Linked DNA regions of Homo sapiens. The protein of the gene in region 3 interacts with the protein of the main gene of each other region in a biochemical or structural test. Each region holds a gene or a part of one and is shown on either strand. Other genes may lie near its edges.

Evidence for each region. Proteins that work in one complex are often made in the same cells at the same time.
Region 1: the proteins of SLCO1C1 (region 3) and PDLIM3 interact in a test that uses a peptide from one of them, tested with the Homo sapiens proteins (one large-scale study listed by IntAct).
Region 2: the proteins of SLCO1C1 (region 3) and INTU interact in a test that uses a peptide from one of them, tested with the Homo sapiens proteins (one large-scale study listed by IntAct).
Region 4: the proteins of SLCO1C1 (region 3) and MAST3 interact in a test that uses a peptide from one of them, tested with the Homo sapiens proteins (one large-scale study listed by IntAct).

Annotation. Positions count from the first base shown.
Region 1 is NC_000004.12:185,521,113-185,525,965, reverse strand, and holds part of PDLIM3 (PDZ and LIM domain protein 3), read left to right. Parts: intron 1-794; coding exon 795-946; intron 947-2,519; coding exon 2,520-2,604; intron 2,605-4,853. UniProt on the Homo sapiens protein: May play a role in the organization of actin filament arrays within muscle cells.
Region 2 is NC_000004.12:127,642,499-127,647,351, reverse strand, and holds part of INTU (protein inturned), read right to left. Parts: intron 3,832-4,853; coding exon 3,296-3,831; intron 1-3,295. UniProt on the Homo sapiens protein: Plays a key role in ciliogenesis and embryonic development.
Region 3 is NC_000012.12:20,697,384-20,702,236, forward strand, and holds part of SLCO1C1 (solute carrier organic anion transporter family member 1C1), read left to right. Parts: intron 1-2,168; 5' UTR 2,169-2,193; coding exon 2,194-2,322; intron 2,323-3,934; coding exon 3,935-4,076; intron 4,077-4,853. UniProt on the Homo sapiens protein: Mediates the Na(+)-independent high affinity transport of organic anions such as the thyroid hormones L-thyroxine (T4), L-thyroxine sulfate (T4S), and 3,3',5'-triiodo-L-thyronine (reverse T3, rT3) at the plasma membrane.
Region 4 is NC_000019.10:18,100,320-18,105,172, reverse strand, and holds part of MAST3 (microtubule-associated serine/threonine-protein kinase 3), read right to left. Parts: intron 1-4,853.

The sequences.
Region 1 (4,853 bases), on a different chromosome or scaffold from region 3:
ACAGATTTCTAAACAAAGTGCAATAGACTGGGTGGCTTATAAGTAACATAAATTTATTTCTCACTGTTCTGGAGACCGGAAATCCAAGGTTAGGATACCAGCATGGTTGGGTTCTGGTGAGGAAACTCTTCTGGGTTGCAGACACCTCACTTGTTATTGTTTCCTCCTTATTGGAGGCAAGAGAGCTGAGAGCTCTCTCTGAGGCCTTTTTCATAAGGGCACTAATCCCATTCATGAGGGCTCCTCACTTCTGACCTAATTACCCCCCAAAAGTCCCTCCTCCAAATACCATCACATTGTGGTTAGGATTTCAACATTTGAGTTTTGGGGGGAGATAAAAAGTCCATTGCATGCCTCTTACGTGAATTTTAAAGATGATAAATAGTAAGGATTGCTATATTTGGATTGAAAGCAGTTTCAACCTGAATGTAAAAGATGCCTAAATATAGTAAAACTCTATTCCCAAATAGAGACTTCTGGGTGATGAAAAATAAAAAATAATTTTTTAAAACAAAAAAATGTATGATTCACACTGGGAATTATGTAAGATGTTTTAAAAGAGAGTAACAGATACAAGGATATGAAATGTGGTTAGTAAGAAACAAAATCATTCAGCAGGATGAGAAAATAGACCTAACTCAACTGACCAACTAAGAGTTATCTTTAGTTAGATTTACAGTCTTTCTGCCCAATTAAACATTTAAAATGTTACCAGGCTGAAACACAAATGTCAGGCACAAAACTCAAGATACTGCGGGATGTTGGTTTTTAAATAGTGCCATGATTTCTTCCAGATTACACCAGGAAGCAAGGCGGCAGCTGCCAACCTGTGTCCTGGAGATGTCATCCTGGCTATTGACGGCTTTGGGACAGAGTCCATGACTCATGCTGATGCGCAGGACAGGATTAAAGCAGCAGCTCACCAGCTGTGTCTCAAAATTGACAGGTGCTTCTTAACTAATGGTGCTTAAATCTGATCTGTTTTGCAGGAGAACCTGAACCAGAACTATAAATAACTTCATCCTCCCAGCAAGGAGGGCCACAGACCTAGTATTTTGGCTGACTTTTTATATATTAGCTACTTAATTCTTTACTAAAGTCAGTCAATCTAGCAGTTGTTGACAAATCATTTCTAAAAAGGATTCTCTGGAATGTTAGAATAATAAAAGAGGCTAAAAGAATTTGTTCCAGTAATAACCCGGTTAATTAACTATGAAAATAGAACTATTAGCCACATAAACACTGAACAACACAACTAGTTATATCACTGTTCTCAGTGTGGTAGAGAATGGAATGGAATGGAATGGAATGGAGAGATTCCCCTGAAATAATCTCTTGACTTGCCTGACTGTAATTATATTAAAACTGGTTGCTAATATCCTGTCTGCCATTGGCTGTTTTGTACAGAATTCAGCCCAGAAGAATGTTACAGGTGTGAGAGTGCATATGCACGTGGGCATGTGAAATACTGAGATGTTTCTGACCCCACCCCCCAAAAACACTAAGAAATTGAGCCTGATCTCTTGCCATCAGATCCCTGATCCAAAACTGAACCATGATAATAATAATTTGTTATAGTGGTTGTTAGTGTGTGTTTATCCTGTTATGATTGTACTCACAGTTTTCCGTGCTGTGGTACAGAAGGATCAATCAATCCACCAATCTGCCGTTTCCTTGGGGTGAAATAGATTCTTTCACTCTCTATGCATAACCTGTGTTCATGCCGAGCACACAGTCCCTTAGGAGCCACTAGGTCCCAGGCAGATGCATGAGAAGGGTTGGACAAAGCACATTTCCTTGATGCCAGTAACACATCCACCTGGCAGATCACTCACTGTCTTCTGCAGTGGCCTCAGTAGGACTGGAGGGAAGTAGGGAGGTCTAGGGAGCTTGCCTGGTGGTCATCTGCAGAGTGTGCCTGCAGAGTCTCCCTCTCCTGTTTCCCACATGCCTTGCAGGCCTCCTTCCTCCAGAAACTGTGCAGTGTACTCCAGGCAATTTTTATCTAGTCTGCCATACCCAAAAGGACATTAAAAATGTACGACTTCGGCCGGGTGTGGTGGCTCCCGCCTGTAATCCTAGCGCTTTGGGAGGCCGAACTGGGCGGATCACTTGAGGTCCAGAGTTCATGACCAGCCTGGCCAACTGGTGAAACCCCGTCTCTACTAAAAATACAAAAATTAGCCAGGCATGGTGGTGGGCACCTGTAATCCCAGCTACTCGGGAAGCTGAGGGAGGAGAATCGCTTGGACCCAGAAGGAGGAGGTTGCAGTGAGTCAAGATTTTGCCACTGCACTCCAGCCTGGTTGACAGAGGGAGACAACATTAAAAGAAAAAAAAAGGGGGGGGGAAGACTAATTATGTGGGAAAATACAGAATAATCAGCAAAAAAAAAAATTGTTTTTGCATAAGTTAGTGAGGTTTGCTAGTATTTTCACAAACATAATGGGAAACTAAAGTATGCTAAAACTGAAAGTACCATTAGAATTTGAAGTTTACAAATTTTATTTTATTTCCAGGGGAGAAACTCACTTATGGTCTCCACAAGTATCTGAAGATGGGAAAGCCCATCCTTTCAAAATCAACTTAGAATCAGAACCACAGGTATGCGTTTTAGAGCAAATGATACACATTGTATTTCCTTTTAAATCATGGGGATGCCTTCCAAGGGGAGGAAGAGACAAATAGAAAAATTGGAACAAGCCACCTATGAAGCTGTTGTCTGTCATTCCTCTCCGAGATTAATTTATATTATCCGTGTTTTCTTACATCAAGAAAAAGAAGTGTTCCTATGTGAACATCTTGTTGAAAGACAAAATATGCTCCCATCAGAAAGAATTTGGCTAAATCTACAGAGTCCACTTATTATTTTTTCATTTCTTATAATGGACTTCTGTGAAATGACCGTGAGGTAATCTAAGGAGTTTAAGTTGTTAAAACAAAGCAAAGCAAAAATAAGGTCTACCATTTGAAACAGGTGTCTCCAATCTACGGTTACTGTGAATTTCAGTCCTTCGAGGTCTTCACCCAGATCTCATTCTACATTCTTCTTTAATTCTCATTTCTGGGATTCTGTAATTAAATTTACTCTAAGAAAAGAGTGTTGCCTAGTGTGATGATGGTGATATTCTGCCGTTACAGCTGAATTATAAAAGATAAAGGATTTTCTCTGGAGGCAACTGTAATAAACTAAACTAATCATCTGATGCTTATCTATGTCTACTTTCAAAAGGCCCAAAAAACCTGAAATTAAATCAAATCTTGATTGTGATGTACTCATAAATCTAATTAAGAAAAGCATTTTATGACCTCTACATAGAAGCTCTAAAGGTTTAGAGATACAGATACATGAATTTACCATCCCTTTTGAAACACATGTTCCTGCTAAACTGATTAGATATTCCCAGCATGTAGTTGTTCTATATAACTGATGAAAGGGAACTGAAAACGTATTTGTAATTTATGTTTAGCAGTATTTCCCCTTTCAAGAAAATCAACTCCTGAATTTGTCCTTCAAGTTTTCTACTTGTCTCCATAAGCCTCTGATTTCTTTTGTGAAAAGATGTTGAATAACATCAGTACATGTGTCTCCTAGGGCTTCTCAAAAATTAGAATAAAATAATACAAGCAGAGAAGTTGGCACATTGAGTTATTCATAGAAATACTCAAGTAAGTGGTAGCTGTCCTTATTATCAGTACGTTACCCCCACCCCAGGCTGGGATCCGAAAGTCTCCTGGCGTTTCTTGCTGGTGAGATAGTTAGCTGCCTACATGATAGGACATCCTAGAGGCTAGGAATGCCTTCTTCATTGCTATTACGAGGGTCGTGACAAATGGAACAAAGCTTTATTTTCAGTTAAAATATAATCTCTCCTGGAGAAGAAGGATCCTGAGTAATGTAATCTTTAGAGGAAATGAGTTTATTAGATTGTTGTCGTAGAGTTTTGACTAAAGGGAAGGTAGAGTCTGAATCTAAAATCCACTAAAAGCAAAAGTAGGAGAAAATAAGCCCCAAAAGGAGTGAGCAGGACAGAGAATATGTTCATGAAGGCAGGAACCTTGAGGCTGTTGTCTTCCCTCTGAGTCCCTCCAGCTCAATAAATAGCCCACAGCTCAATAAATAGCTGACAAATGGATGAAAGGAACTGGAGGGCCTAAAAATGAGCTGTGCATTTTCTAACATTGCCAGGACCTGTCCTGGGAGCCAGTTCTCAAAATGGTGTTCTGCCATCACTCTCAGCTGTTGCATGGAAAGTAATCTTGAAAGTTGAGTGGGGCCAGGCGCATTGACTCACACCTATAATCCTTTGGGAGGCAGAGGCAAAAAGATTGCTTGAGCCCTGGAGTTTGAGACCAGCCTGGGCAACATGGTGAGACCCCATTTCTATAAATTTTAAAAATTAACCAGGGCATGTTGGTACACACCTGTAAGTCCCAGCTACACAGAAGGCTGAGGTGGGAGGAGTGCTTGAGCCCAGGATGTCGAGGCTGCAGTGAGCTGTGATTGCACCACTGCACTCCAGCTTGGGTGACAGAGCAAGACCCTGTCTCAAAAAAAAAAAAAAAGAAAAGAAAAGAAAGTTGAGTGGGATACTTAGGCTAGGTAAGACTTTTGCTCTTTGGGGTAAGTGAGCAAAAGAAAATGGATGGCACAGATAATAAATATAATGAGAAGGGATCTGAATGCTGATGGCGACTCCCCCTGACATACTAGGTGGGCTGGTGAATAATGACACCTCTAGTCAACATTTTCTTTGCTAGAAGAAAATAGTGGAAGAAAAAAGGAAAGTTCTTGAGGTAGAGTTCTCACTTGTATCTAGCCTTTTGCAGAGATGCCCAGGCTGACCTGCTTC
Region 2 (4,853 bases), on a different chromosome or scaffold from region 3:
ATTCTTCCCTGGAGCCTCCAAAAGGAATGTAGCCCTGTGGACACCTTGATTTTCATACAAGAAGACCCATTTTAGATTTCTGGCTTACATTATTGCAAGATGATAAATCTGTATTGTTTTAAACCACTAAGTTTGTGGTAATTTGTCACGGCAGCAATAGAAGATGAATGCACTAGCCTAGTAATACAAAGCAATCTTTGTGATGCACCAAAAAAGGAATCACGAATGCTAAAAAGCAAAGATGGACACACAAGGTGTATCTGGAGGTCAGTTAGGAAAAAAATAAATCAGGCTTGCTTGTTAGAGGTGGGGATTTATGGATAGAAGGAGTGGCACATATGTATGGGACAGAAAAATGAGATCAAATTGTGAATTGAAATTGATCCTTTTAATTAAGCCAAATTTGACTTCAGGGAAAGGGAATCTGGTTTTTGAAAAGCAGTTACTATACTGCCATTTTATACATTCAAAACTCAATGTTTTCTGCCAATGCATTTACTAACAATAAATTTTGTTATTTTTTTTTGAGTTTCAATCTCAACCCCTCGTCTATAATATGTGGGCACCAAACTAGAGAGAATTAAGGCCCCTCCCAACCTACCATTCTGAAGTCCTTGAATAATGGTACCAACTTGCTTTTGTGAAAACTGTTAAATGAAGAAAAATCAGACATTTATCCTGCCTTTCCTGTCTAAACCATATGTCAAGGTTACCAGAGGTGAGGGGGAGCTTCTTTTTATGAAAGTAGTCTAACTGAAATATTGAGAAAGACTGACAGAATTGGAATATCACCATTTTGCAGTCCCTTAATGAATTAATGGATTTAGGCAATGATCATCAATAACTGTTAATATCACAAAAAGAAAAACAGCAGATAATATGTTGTTCCTGATGGAAGCACACAGACCACCTATAAAATATGTTTGATAGGCCTCAAGATCTAACTACCAACTCACAGGAAACACCACTGAAAGGGGGGCACGTTAAATGAATTCTGGCTCCTTTTACAGAACTAAAAGAACAAACCATAGAGATATTTAGTTCTATCCTATCATTTCACAAGAAGGAAAGTAGAGGACCCAAGAGAATGTAAGTATGTATTAGCCCCTGTTCCAGTCATCTATTGTTGCATAATAAGTCATCCAAACAATTTTTTTTTTTTTTTTTGAGACAGAGTCTCACTGTGTTCCCCCAGGCTGGAGTGCGGTGGTACAATCTTGGCTCATTGCAACCTCTGCCTCCCAGGTTCAAGTGATTCTCGTGCCCCAGCCTCCCCAGCAGCTGAGATTACAGGCATGCACCACAAGGCCCAGCTAAGTTTTGTATTTTTTAGTAGACACGGGGTCTTGCCATGTTGGCCAGGCTGGTCTCAAACTCCTGGCCTCAAGTGATCTGCCCACCTTGGCCTCCCAAAGTGCTGGGATTACAAGTGTTAGCCACCACGCCAGGCCTATCCAAATAATTCTGAGGCTTAAAACAACAACAGTTGGCCAGGCACGGTGGCTCACGCCTGTAATCCCAGCACTTTGTGAGGCTGAGGCGGGTGGATCACCTGAGGTCAGGAGTTCAAGACCAGCCTGACCAACATGGTGAAACTCCATCTCTACTAAAAAATACAAAAAAATTAGTCAGGCATGGTGGTGGGTGCCAGTAATCCCAACTACTCAGGAGGCTGAGGCAGAAGAATCGCTTGAACCCGGGAGGTAGAGGTTGAAGTGAGCCAAGATGGTGCCATTGCACTCTAGCCTGAGTGACAACAGCAAAACTCCATCTCAAAAATAAATAAATAAATAAATAAAATAAAAAATAAAAAAATAACAACAACAATAATTTATCATCTCTCCTGGTTCTGGGGTTAACTGGGGTCAGCTGTGGTTCTCACTTGGGATTCCTCATGCAGTTACAGGCAGATGGTGGTTGGGGCTGGAGTCATCTTAAAGGCTTCTCACTCACATCTGGTGGCGAGGGCTTCAGTTGGGGCTATCAGCTGGATCACTGGTGTCTTGACCTCTTCACACAATGGTGACTGGGTTCTAAGGGCAAGTATCCCCAAAATAACCAGGCAGAAGCTGCATCACCTTTTATGATCCAACCTCTTAAGTCACATGGCACCAATTAAGCTGTAGTCACCGGCCCACCCAGATTCAATGACACAGAGCACAACTCTCCATGGGAGGAGTATCAACACTACATTTTAAGAAAGTGTGCAGATCCTGTTGAGATCATTCTGGAACACATACTTTGCCACAGATGCCCTTCTTACAAGATTCCATATGATCCTCCTTGTAAACCCCTATGATGACACTTATCAGACAGTGAGGAGCTGCCTGCCTATCTGTAACCCGTCTCTTCCACTAAAACATAGCTCCTTTCAAGAAATAATTGGATCAGTAAAGTAATCTTTGTATTCCTGGCACTTAGCAGATGCTAAAAAAACAAACTGTCAAATCAGTGAACAAACAAATGAAATTCAGATTTAAAGTTGGAAATATTTGTAAATTTATCTGTAAATGTTCTTCATTTAAACCTCTTATGCTAGATAAACTTAAAAGACTGTCAGCTTTTAGAACTGTTATTACTTTTAAATTTTAGTAATAATATATCCTCAAATTTTACTCATTTATCTTTAAGTAATTAGATTGCTACTAACTCAAACATTGTATCTAACAGCTTAAAATTTATCAGCAACACAAAATGTTCATCTTAATATATATTCAGAATAATTTGTGGGTTTATTTTTCTTGAAAATTGGTGGGCTATTTTATGACAGATATATTTTATGACACACGCCCTTAAAAGGAAATTTATATATAACACCACTGTTGCAAAATATGCCAAATGAAACAGTTGAAAACCACTCCAAGAACTTAGTGTACTCAAGTGCAAACATACAATTTAAAAGTATTTTTATTCATAAATTATATATTTTTGTATCCTGTTACTGGATATAGCCATTCAAACCTAAATTATCACTCTATGATCAACGTTTTTTTTCTTGTCAGCAAATATAACCAAGATGAAATAAAATTATATAATTCAAAACTTGAAAATTAGGTAAGCTATTTCTTGGCCTGAACAAGGCACACACATACTCAACACACTGAACTGGTCATTTTAAGAACACTGTGCCTTGTAGTGCACCATGTGTAACCATTTCTCTACTGTACCAAATGTCATTAATCAGTTCTTTATCTGTGGAGACTGTATATAATTGTTTTTATCACATTTCCCGCAAGGTGTCATCATTAATCAAGATCTCTGTAAACAGGGATGGATGTGTACCAGCAACACTTACCAATGAGTACCTGACCGCTCTTCATAGCAGATCCCCCTGGCAGCAGGCCATGAACCACAAGCCTCTCTCCATCACCCTGCTTTCCGGTTCTTCTCCAGCTCCACTTGGTCTGATGAATAATTCCAACCAGCACTTCCAGAAGCTTGAGCTGCTCTTTGGCTTTGATAACAGTTAGCTTTTTGGGGTTTACATAAACATTCACATCTTTGTATCGCTGTTGGACAATGACTCCTGTCTTCTGATTGGACTGATGCTTTAGAATGGATACTGGTCCATTGTCATTGCTATTTTTTTTATTGCAGCGCTTGGGTAAAAGTCTTTTCCTTCTTAAAATTTTGGTAAACTGCTTGAGTTTGGGTTCATACTTTTTTCTTTCTTTGTAGTCATCTTCAATGATAATCTCATTTTCACTGAACCTGACATGGTTCACAGTTGGTGTCTCAGGAAGGAGGCTTTCTTCTTCATCCTCACTCAATTCCAAATAAAACAGCTCTCCATTTTTCTGCACACTGTCCAGCCATTCAGGCTCAAGATCACTATGAAAGAGAGAAAAGATAATCTTAATAGCAGCCCAATATATAAAAGAAAGGTATGTCATCCTGGCATGGGGGTGAGGGTTGGGGCTGGGGAGCAGGAAGATGGGAAAGGGTGAAACTTCTTTATTATTTCAAATTATCCTTACTATTTCTAATTTATTGTGATCCTCAACATTATTTCATATAGGATGCTTTTTTTGTAGAGCTTTGAATAGGAGTTGGGGGAGAAGGAATCAAAAAGGCATAGCAATAGAAAGGAAAACCAATGAAAAAAGAGATGGTCCCCTTATAGAATCTATGAGTTGAAAAAAATTAAATCAACCACTGTGTGGTTACTGCTCACTTTAAACAATTTCACTGAATGATAATTTGCATTAGCAGTTGATTATGCAATTATATCCACACAAGCATGCCATTTGGAAATTGTACATGAAAATCTATTATTTGCATAGAAATTATTTAGGATGGCTGTCAGGTTAAAATGAAAGCTAAAGCCAGCTTTAACAGACTTTTACATAAGTTTTCAAAAAAGAAACATTCACTTCACCATGAACTAAAATCTGTCCTGAAAACAACCCATTTATAATCACAGTTAATATAGTAATGATCACTTTACTGTCTATAATTTCCATAAAACTCCTTTTTATGAAAAATTGTAGTAGAAAAAAAAAAGCACATATTACATAATTCATCGTGATTATAAAAAATATTTTTAACTGGGAAGTATGCCACTGAAAAAAAAAACAAAATTACTGCTATTAAAATGATTGAAATAGCATTAAGGAGCAAAAATACTCATGGTAACAAACCTAAACTCTACCCTGTTCAATGTTATGAACAGTTTACCTTTCAAACTGCTATTCTTTAAAGTGAAACTAGTAATAGTGGAAAAATTAACATGTAGAGAGTCTTTTCAGAAACATGAGCTGTAATATCCCGGCCTGAAAGAGTATAATTTGTGTTGTAATCATTAAATCAGATAGAAGACATTTCTGTTTTCTGCAGTGTTTATTAGCAACTCC
Region 3 (4,853 bases):
TCTCTTGCTTGGCAATATTTTTACTCATAGTTTTGTAGTAAAGATACCTATTTAACATTGTATAACTCTGCATTTCCCAAACCCTGTTTTCCTTGTCCTGGCAAAATACTGTTCTAGAAAAGTAGTCCTAGTGACTCAGTAGATATAGGAAGTTGGCTGTTGGTATCAGATACTGTTAAGGAAGAATCTCTATATTCTTCATTTCTTAAACTTTGTTTTTTAAATCAGTAATAGATGTCGAATTTTATCAACTGATGTTTTTCATGTAATGAAATTCTATTTTTTATTTTGAATTATTCATGTGGTAATTTAGGTGAATAAATTTCCTGTAATTAACCAATTGTTGCATCTTTTAGAATAATTCTAATCATAGAGCAAGAGTTAATTTGGATTTGCTAGCATTTACTTAGAATTTTTATAATCTATGGGCTTGATCTGAAGTTTTCCTTTCTGTGCTATCTTTGTGCTGTTTTGTTACCAAGATAATGTTATTTTTGTCAAACTAATGGAGACAATGATTATCTGTTTCCATTATCGGCTATCTTTCCTCAAAGAATATCCCTTGATAAAGCACTTCTGGTGCATCATCTATCCTTAGTATCTTTGTTTAGGGAATAGTTTCAGAGTATTTTTGATAATGTCTTTCTTGGCTATTTTCTCTTCTGGTTTTTATCAATATAGGTAATGAATATTTGCTAGAAACTTATCCATTAAGTCAAGATATTAAACTTACTTCAACATTCGATGCATCTTTTTATGTTTTATACTCCTAAATATCTGTGTTTTATCTCATTAATATTATGTATTTATATCTTTGTTTTTTGTCTTGATTAACATTATTAGCTCTTTGTTTTGCTTATTTTTTGTTTTTAAATTTTTCTCTTTCACTCACTCTTCTTTTTCAATTAAAAAATTAAAGTTATGAATGCTTATAAAATGAATCCAAAAGCCTAATAATAATTTTTTTGAAACCAGACCCTTGTCTCATCCTTTCCTTTAGTCAATTCCCACTCCCTAGAGGAATCCACTTAATTTTTAAATTGTTGAAGTCCTCTGATGTTTTAACTTCATATTATTAATACAAAGCAAATCGTTTATACTATTACTTGATTTTTCAGTTTGAGAAAGTATGAATTGAAATGGTGAGGGATGAGGTTTAGTGAACACAAAACAAGCATTGCATAAAGTCAAGGTGATATACTCAGTCAGAATAGATTTCTGCCACAATACATGAAATTTGACTCCTAACATTATTCCTTTAGGAATAACATTATTCCACTCCTATTATGTGGATATAGAAGTCCTCTATTAATGTACAATTGGGTCATCTGATAATATTAGGGAGATTGAGAAATACTTTGTTTGTTGAATTCCTTGATTTAGGTTAGATTATCAGGCAGGCACTGAGCCATGTGGAATCCTAAAGAAGTAGGGGCACAGGATATGTAAATATTGATGTGAACAGGGAGAAAATAGGTTCAGTGTGTGATCCTGTCCTGTGAGGGGCGGTGGGAAATTGAGCATGGGAAGCAAGGCTGTCTTTTTTACTTTAAGGCTGATCAAAGACTGTTCTTTCACCTGAATTAAATCTAAGGCACAAATCATGTTGCTCCCTTATTTATCAAACAAAAACAATACACAAATTGGACCTCTTCTTTTTTGTCATATTTTAAGGCTCACATTGGGTGCTACAGGAATCATAAGGTGGTACAGGGACCTATAATGAATGTAAAACTTCTATTTGTTTTGCTAAGAAGATAGATTTAAAGGCTTTAAAGACTTTATCCTAATGAATCAATATTCAAATAGTTGAATTCCTCTTCTTCCTTTCCTGCTTGCTCCTAGTTTAAACTGGCAAGACCACAAAGTTAGCAAAATTCTGCCTCATTATTTATTCCAAAGGCAACACTTAAATTTATTCTTTGCCATAATGAGGCTTAAACTGGGCAGATTGAGAAAGAATGCTGGCTACAGAGTTCCAATAGCAGGATTAGTTAATCAGATATCCTGGTTGATTTTAATTGAAAACATTTGCCAACTTACTGTGACAACAAAAGGTAGATTCACTTTAAATTGCGTCTATAGAATTGTGGTATACTGTTGAATAAAAAAATTTAATAAATTGCGTAGTATTTATTTATTTTTACTTTAAAAACTAACTTTGACAGATCAGAGTCAAGGAATGTGTTTATAATGGACACTTCATCCAAAGAAAATATCCAGTTGTTCTGCAAAACTTCAGTGCAACCTGTTGGAAGGCCTTCTTTTAAAACAGAATATCCCTCCTCAGAAGAAAAGCAACCATGCTGTGGTGAACTAAAGGTAGAGCAACCAAGAAGTAAATAGTGTTGATGCTCTTAGTTTTCTGTCCAGATATCATCTATATAATGAAGTTAGAATGAGAATTGTTTTCTCCTTTAAAAAAAAAAAAAGATCTTAGATGCAATTTACTAAAACCACACCTTGCCAGGCGGTGCAAGCAATCTCTACCTGACCATGTGGGTTAAATTACTTTCCTGGGCTCATTTAAATGCCCCCCCAAACAGAAAAGAGAGAAATAGTAGAAACTAGTATTTATTGAACTTCTGCCATGTGCCAGATATTAAGCCAAGCACAGATATAACATTTAATTTGTGAAACATCACATTACTCCCATTTTGCAAATAAAAATGGGAATAATGTTACAGAGTAGGGAGAAGAGTTGCTTTTTTTTTTTTTTAGGATTGTTGTATCAAACAATAGTTTTTAGTTTTTTGAGGAACCTCCATACTATTATATTTTCCAAAGAGACTACATCAACTTATGTAACCACTAACCATGTACAAAGATTCCCTTTTCTTTACATTCTAACCAGTTTTTATTTTTTGTTATAGCCAACAGATGTGAAGTGATATGTCATAAAGATTTTTATTTGCATCTCCATAATGACTAGTGATGTTGAGCACCTTTTTCATATACCTGTTGGCCATGCCTTCTTTTAAGTAATGTCTATTTAGATTATTTGCCCATTGTTAAAATCATGCTATTTTTCTTTGCTATTTAGTGATAGAAGTTTCTTTTTTTTAATTATTTTTTAATTATTATACTTTAAGTTCTAGGGTACATGTGCACACGTGCAGGTTTGTTACATACGTATACATGTGCCATGTTGGTGTGCTGCACCCGTTAACTCGTCATTTACATTAGGTATATCTCCTAATGCTGTCCCTCCCCGCTCCCCCAATCCCCCGAGAATAGTTGTTTCTTAAGGGATGCTTTGTGTGCTCCTATTCTTTCTTTATACAAATATTCACTCAACAAATCTCTGCTTTTTTCATATAAATGCTAACCTTCCCTATGAATGTTCTATCACAGACCCATGTCTATCAAAATATATAAGCTAGATATCAAAGACATGTTTTCCATTGAGAAAAATATTTGACTATGAATTTAATAAGTATAAACATAAACACAAGGAATAATAGTTGCACTTTTTCAGTCTGTACATTATGTTCCCGGCTGGTGCATGCACCACCCTGTGAAATACATAATCCCAAGTGCTGGACTTGTTATAGGATGTCAAGTGTTTGGCTTATGGTTTCATTTACTTTCTTACCAATGAATGTCTCACCATACACTGACTCTTCAATGTAAGACTCCTTTGAGTGCCCCTCTGGAGCAGAGTGGAAGAAGACAAAAGATAATTCAATACACATTTCGCATAAAAACCAAATATATATTTTAAATTCCAAGAGAATTTGAACTGTTGAAAACTTACAGTGCTTAAGGCTGATGGAAACCTCGAACAGTGTTTGAATTAAAGTTTCAGTGATAATAAAGTTGATATTATACATTGTTCTTTGTTGTTTGTTTTGTATTTGTTTGTCTATTTACTTAGTTTCCAATTGTGTGTCAAGCTGGAGTCAGACTAAGTGTGACCTGTCATATTTTCCAGGTGTTCTTGTGTGCCTTGTCTTTTGTTTACTTTGCCAAAGCATTGGCAGAAGGCTATCTGAAGAGCACCATCACTCAGATAGAGAGAAGGTTTGATATCCCTTCTTCACTGGTGGGAGTTATTGATGGTAGTTTTGAAATTGGTAGGTATTACAGATGCCTGACTTTAATTTTAAGCCCAAGATCTTCTAGGTGTGGCTAAAGAACACCTTCTGCATTCTATTGTCTGCTGGGATCAGACTCTATTCATAAAATCTTTTTTTTTTTTTTTGGACAGAATTTACCATGATCTTATTCTACAGGAGAGGCAATTTTCTCAGAGCAATCAACAGTAAATTTTTCTCCCCAGGTGTTTGGTATTGTATGGTTCACACAATTCAGAGTTCTACATCAGAGTAAGTGACTTTCTTGGAGGAAAGGGTGAGATGCTAATTGGTATTTTGAGTTATAAATATGTAGAAGTATCTTTACAGAAGAACAATACACCCTGGGAGCACTATGATTCAATTTTAGAGGTGTGGAATAATCCAAATGCGCTCTACAAGAATTTACTGCAATGATGAATAGAAGTTACATCATAAAAGGGATTTTTCCACCCAGTGGTCTAGAAAGAAGAATAAAGGGATTCTATTACCAAGAACACAAGATCAGAGCAGGCAATAAAAATTCAAATCTCAGGTGCCTTTGGTTAGCAATTGACTACAGACTCCTTAGAAATTAAAAAGATCGAGTAATTTGAGTCACTGTTTTAGAAGTAATTTAAAGAGGATAATCCTAGTTAGTCTGCTTCCTGAATTGATAAACTAAAAGGCTTTAATTTTTTGCTGAAGTAAACGAAATAGTACCCTCTCTGGTCCTTAAGGCTTGTTTAGATTCAGATATACACCATAGTAAAACCTCTAACTGCTCCAATTTTAGCT
Region 4 (4,853 bases), on a different chromosome or scaffold from region 3:
CTGGTCTCGAACTCCTGACCTCAAGTGATCCATCCACCTTAGCCTCCCAAAGGGCTGGGATTACAGTGTAAGCCATCGCACCCGGTCAATCACGAGGGTTTATTAAATTCTCAAAATGCCATGTGGCACAAGTTTAGAATCTGGGGACACCCAGACCTGGGTCCAGTTCAATTCTCTGTTTCTTCCTGGCCATGCAAATTATTTGTATGCCCCGTGCCTCAGTTTCCCCATCTGTAACTGGAGATGACGTGAGGAGGGTTCTGGGTTAATCATGATCAGCCATTACTATTGCTGCTGTTGTGTGCTGTTGTACTATTGTTGAGCTCAGCAAGGGACCATGGAAGCTGTCATAATACCTGGTAAATGTCCTTGCATTTACTGAGCCACCTCCTACGAACCGCGGGCAGGGGCTGTTTTACTGGCAGGGAAACTTAGGTGCAGAGGAAAGCCGGCTGCCCACGTCTCTTAGTGGAGTGAGAGGCAGGAAACTGGGTCTCAGGACACCCTCCCTCCACACACATCAGGGCGGCCACGTTGGGGACACACGACTATTTTTACTTTGGTGGGCTCCAGGCTGCCCACGTCGTGATCTGGGTGTTCGCCATAGCAACCAGTGACGCCATCGGCCCCTACAGCCAATTGGAGGGGGCCGGAAGCTGCTGGGCTGCCGGATGACCCAGCTGGGAGGGCAAGGTCTCCCGGGAGAGGCGGGGAAGGGTCGCGGGGGTGTGGCGTTACCCCAGGCCTGACTTCAGCTGCTCTGCGCTCAGAAAACCAAGCTGTCACGATGGGAGGAGAATAATCTACCCCTCGAAGGTCTCTCTGACTGCTTGAATATGTCTGAGGACAGACAACTCACGGCGTTTAGTTCAAGCAGTCATGGTGATGGAACCATCACCACCATCACCGTGGCCATTAGGGTCTCCTTCTTCCCCTTCCAATAGTTGTGGGAATTTTTTTTTTTTTTTTTTTTTTTTTTTTTTTTTTTTTTTTGAGACAGCGTCTGGCTATGTCGCCCAGACTGGAATGCAGTGGTGCAATCTTGGCTCACTGCAACCTCCGCCTCCAGAGTAGCTGGGATTGTGGGCATGTGCCACCACACCCGGCTAATTTTTGTATTTTTTATAGAGATGAGGTTTCACCATGTTGCCCAGGCTGGTCTTGAACTCCTGGTCTCAAGTGATCCACCTGCCTTGGCCTCCCAAAGTGCTGGGATTACAGGCATGAGCCACTGCACCCAGCCAGTTGTGGGATCTTATACCACTTCCTCCACTACCCCACGTGAAACAGGGAGGGATTTGAACCCTGGTGGGGGGTCCCACTTGCACCCCATCCAGGCATTTCCTTCCAAAACTCTGACAGTCCTAGGTTCCCAGTCTGGCTCCCCCACTCCTGCACTGTGTGACCCGACAAGTGACTTAACCCCTCTGTGCCTCAGTTTTCTCATTTGGAAAATGGCCCAGTGACATAGGGTCCCTGGAGGAATCAATGAGTAGCAAGCTCAGAGCCTGGTGCTGGGGGAGACTTGGATGGATGGGAGTCAAGACAATGATCAAGACGTGAATAATAACCACCAGTTGAAAGTTGCTTCCAAAAGACAAAAAGATGTGAATATTTTGTTTGTTTGTTTGTTTTCAGATGGAGACTTGCTCTGTCGCCCAGGCTGGAGGGCAATGGTGCGATCTTGTCTCACTGCAACCTCCACCTCCTGGGTTCAAGCGATTCTTCTGCCTCAGCCTCCCAAGTAAGCTGGGATTACAGGCGCCCACCACCACGCTTGGCTGATTTTGTATTTTTAGTAGAGATAGGATTTCACCATGTTGGTCTGGCTGGTCTTGACCTCCTGACCTCAAGCAGTCCTCCCATCTCGGCCTCCCAAAACGCTGGATTACAGGCATGAGCCACTGTGCCTGGCCTGAAGATGTTTTTTTAAAGTGGCAGAGAGAGGTGAGGCAAAATCGGCAGCTCCCTGCAAAGGCTCCCGGGGAAGCTGGACCACACAGAACTCTCCTGGCACCACTCCCGGACCCTTCGGTCCCCGCACCATCTGCTTTCCACCCACAGCTCCCTCTGTGCCTGCTGTTCCCCTGGGAGTGGTTCCCACCCAGAGGAGTGGAGGTTGGGGAGGCCCCGACCCCCTGAAACTGCCCTTTAAAGGTAATATTTATGGTATACCCGTCTGCGCTTGCCCAGGCTGGGGGATGCTGCCTCCCCAACAAGCTTTAGCCCCACCTTGAGGAAATCCCATTTTGGAGAAGACATAGCACAGCAGGAGCACCCCCATACTGGAGGGATTAAGAGAGACCCGAAGCAGCTGGGTGCTGTGGCTCATGCCTGTAATCCCAGCACTTTGGGAGGCTGAGGCGGGAGGATCACTTAAGATCAAGAGTTTGAGCCAGGTGCGGTGGCTCACGCCTGTAATCCCAGCACGCTGGGAGGCCAAGGTGGGCGGATCACAAGGTCAGGAGTTCAAGATCAGCCTGGCCAACATAGTGAAACCCCGTCTCTACTTAAAATACAAAAATTAGCTGGATGTGGTGGCAGGCGCCTGTAGTCCCAGCTACTCGGTAGGCCGAGGCAGGAGAATCCCTTGAACCCCGGAGGCGGAGGTTGCAGTGAGCCAAGACCACACCATTGTACTCCAGCCTGGGTGACAGAATGAGACTCCGTCTCAAAAAAAAAAAAAAAAAAGGTGGCCGGGCGCAGTGGCTCATGCCTGTAATCCCAGGACTTTGGGAGGCTGAGGCAGGCAGATCACCTGAGGTCAGGAGTTCGAGACCAGCCTGACCAACATGGAGAAACCCCGTCTCTACTAAAAATACAAAATTAGCAGGATGTGGTGGCGCATGCCTGTAATCCCAGCTACCTGGGAGGCTGAGGCAGGAGAATCGCTTGAACTCGGGGGCAGAGGTTGCGGTGAGCCGAGATCGTGCCATTGCACTCCAGCCTGGGCAAGAAGAGCGAAAGAGTGAAACTCCGTTTCAAAAAAAAAAGGCCAGGCGCAGTGGCTAACACCTGTAATCTCAGCACTTTGAGAGGCCGAGGTGGGAGGATCACGAAGTCAGCAGATGGAGACCATCCTGGCTAACACGGTGAAAGCCCGTCTCTGCTAAAAATACAAAAAATTAGCCGGGTGTGGTGGCAGGAGCCTGTAGTCCCAGCTACTCGGGAGGCTGAGGCAGGAGAATGGCATGAACCTGGGAGGTGGAATGAGCGGAGATCACGCCACTGCACTCCAGCCTGGGCGACAGAGCAAGACTCCGTCTCAAAAAAAAAAAAAAAAAAAAAAAGAGTTTGAGGCCATTCTGGCCAACATGGTGAAACACCATCTCTACTAAAAAATATAAAAATTATATTAGTCGGGTGTGGTGGCGCTCGCCTGTAATCCAGCTACTCAGGAGGCTGAGGCTGTGAGAATCGCTTGTATCCAGGTGACGGAGCCTGCAGTGAGCCAAGATGGCGCCACTGCACTCCAGCCTGGGCCACCGCACTCCAGCCTGGGCGACAGGGCAAGATCCTGTCTAAAAAAAGAGAGACTCAAAGGGAGAAGAGGGGTTGGAGGCACACAGAGAGGAGAGCTAAGGGGCTTCCTGGAGTAGGGGGTGTCAAACAAAGCCTGCAGGCACATGGAAAACACCAGTCCATGCCCAGCAAACAGCACGTGCAAAGGGAGGTGAGACTCAGCCTGCTGGGCACCAAGCCCGGTTGGAAGTTCGATGCCCCTGGAATTAAATGGGAGAGAAGTCAGCATGGACCACATGGCACCAGCCCCAGGGCTTCCAGGAGGAGGAGGAGGAGGAGGAGAAGGAGAAGGAGGAGGAGGAGGAGGAGGAGGAAAATAAGTGGAAGCTGTCCATGAGAAAGCAGGATCACCTTGGAGGGCTGAACCTAGAGGAGCCACCCCAGTAGCGGCAGAGACAAAAGTCCAGATACAGGCTCTAGCCCTTCTCTGCCGGGGGATGCTCTGTTTGTGGGACCTGGTGTTTTGAAATTCGGTCATGTGTAAAGCAAAGGTCCAAGTAGGAGATGATAAATGTAATAAGATAATAGTAGTAGTAGTAATAACAGCTCACGTTACCCGGTGCCTGCACACGTTATGCGTGAGGCTGAGTTTAACCCAAATTGGGAAGGTCTCCACCTCCTCCCTGGACCCAGGGCTGTCGCAAACTGGCCGCCCGCGGGCCAGGCCGGATCCTTTTTCAGACCTTTCCTGCACACAGCCAACAGCACGCCTCACATTGTCACCACCGGAGAGGACGCCCTGGGCTATGCGTCTGGATTGGCCGGTCAGCACCCGTTTGTGAATGGACTCTTTGGCCTTTGGCCTCCAGGAAATCTGATTGGCTCGCATCAGCGATCTACCCCCTGATTGGCTGGGGTGCTCCTGGACCATTAACAAGGTTTCCAGTCAAAAGAGACCCCAAACTGGGGCTGATGAAGACAACACCTTCACGTGCCAGATTGGTTAGAATTTCTCTGGCTTCCTGGTGGGTACTTCCCTCTTTGGGCCTCAGTTTCTTCCTTTGAAAAGTGGAACTAATAATAGCACTGACCACTCGGGCTGTTGGGAGAATTGAATGCATGAGAGGGCTTAGCCTGTTAATATGAACGGTTATTCCCACTTTACTATTATTTTATTATTATTTTAATCTTCTTCCACTTGGACCTTTATTTTTATTTTTGAGATAGGGTCTCGTGATCATGGCTCACTATAGCCTCAAACTCCTGGGCTCAAGAGATCCTTCTTGGCTGGGCGCGGTGGCTCACGCCTGTAATTCTAGCACTTTGGGAGGCCGAGGTGGGCGGATCACCTGAGATCAGGAGTTTGATACCAGCCTGGCCAACATGGCGAA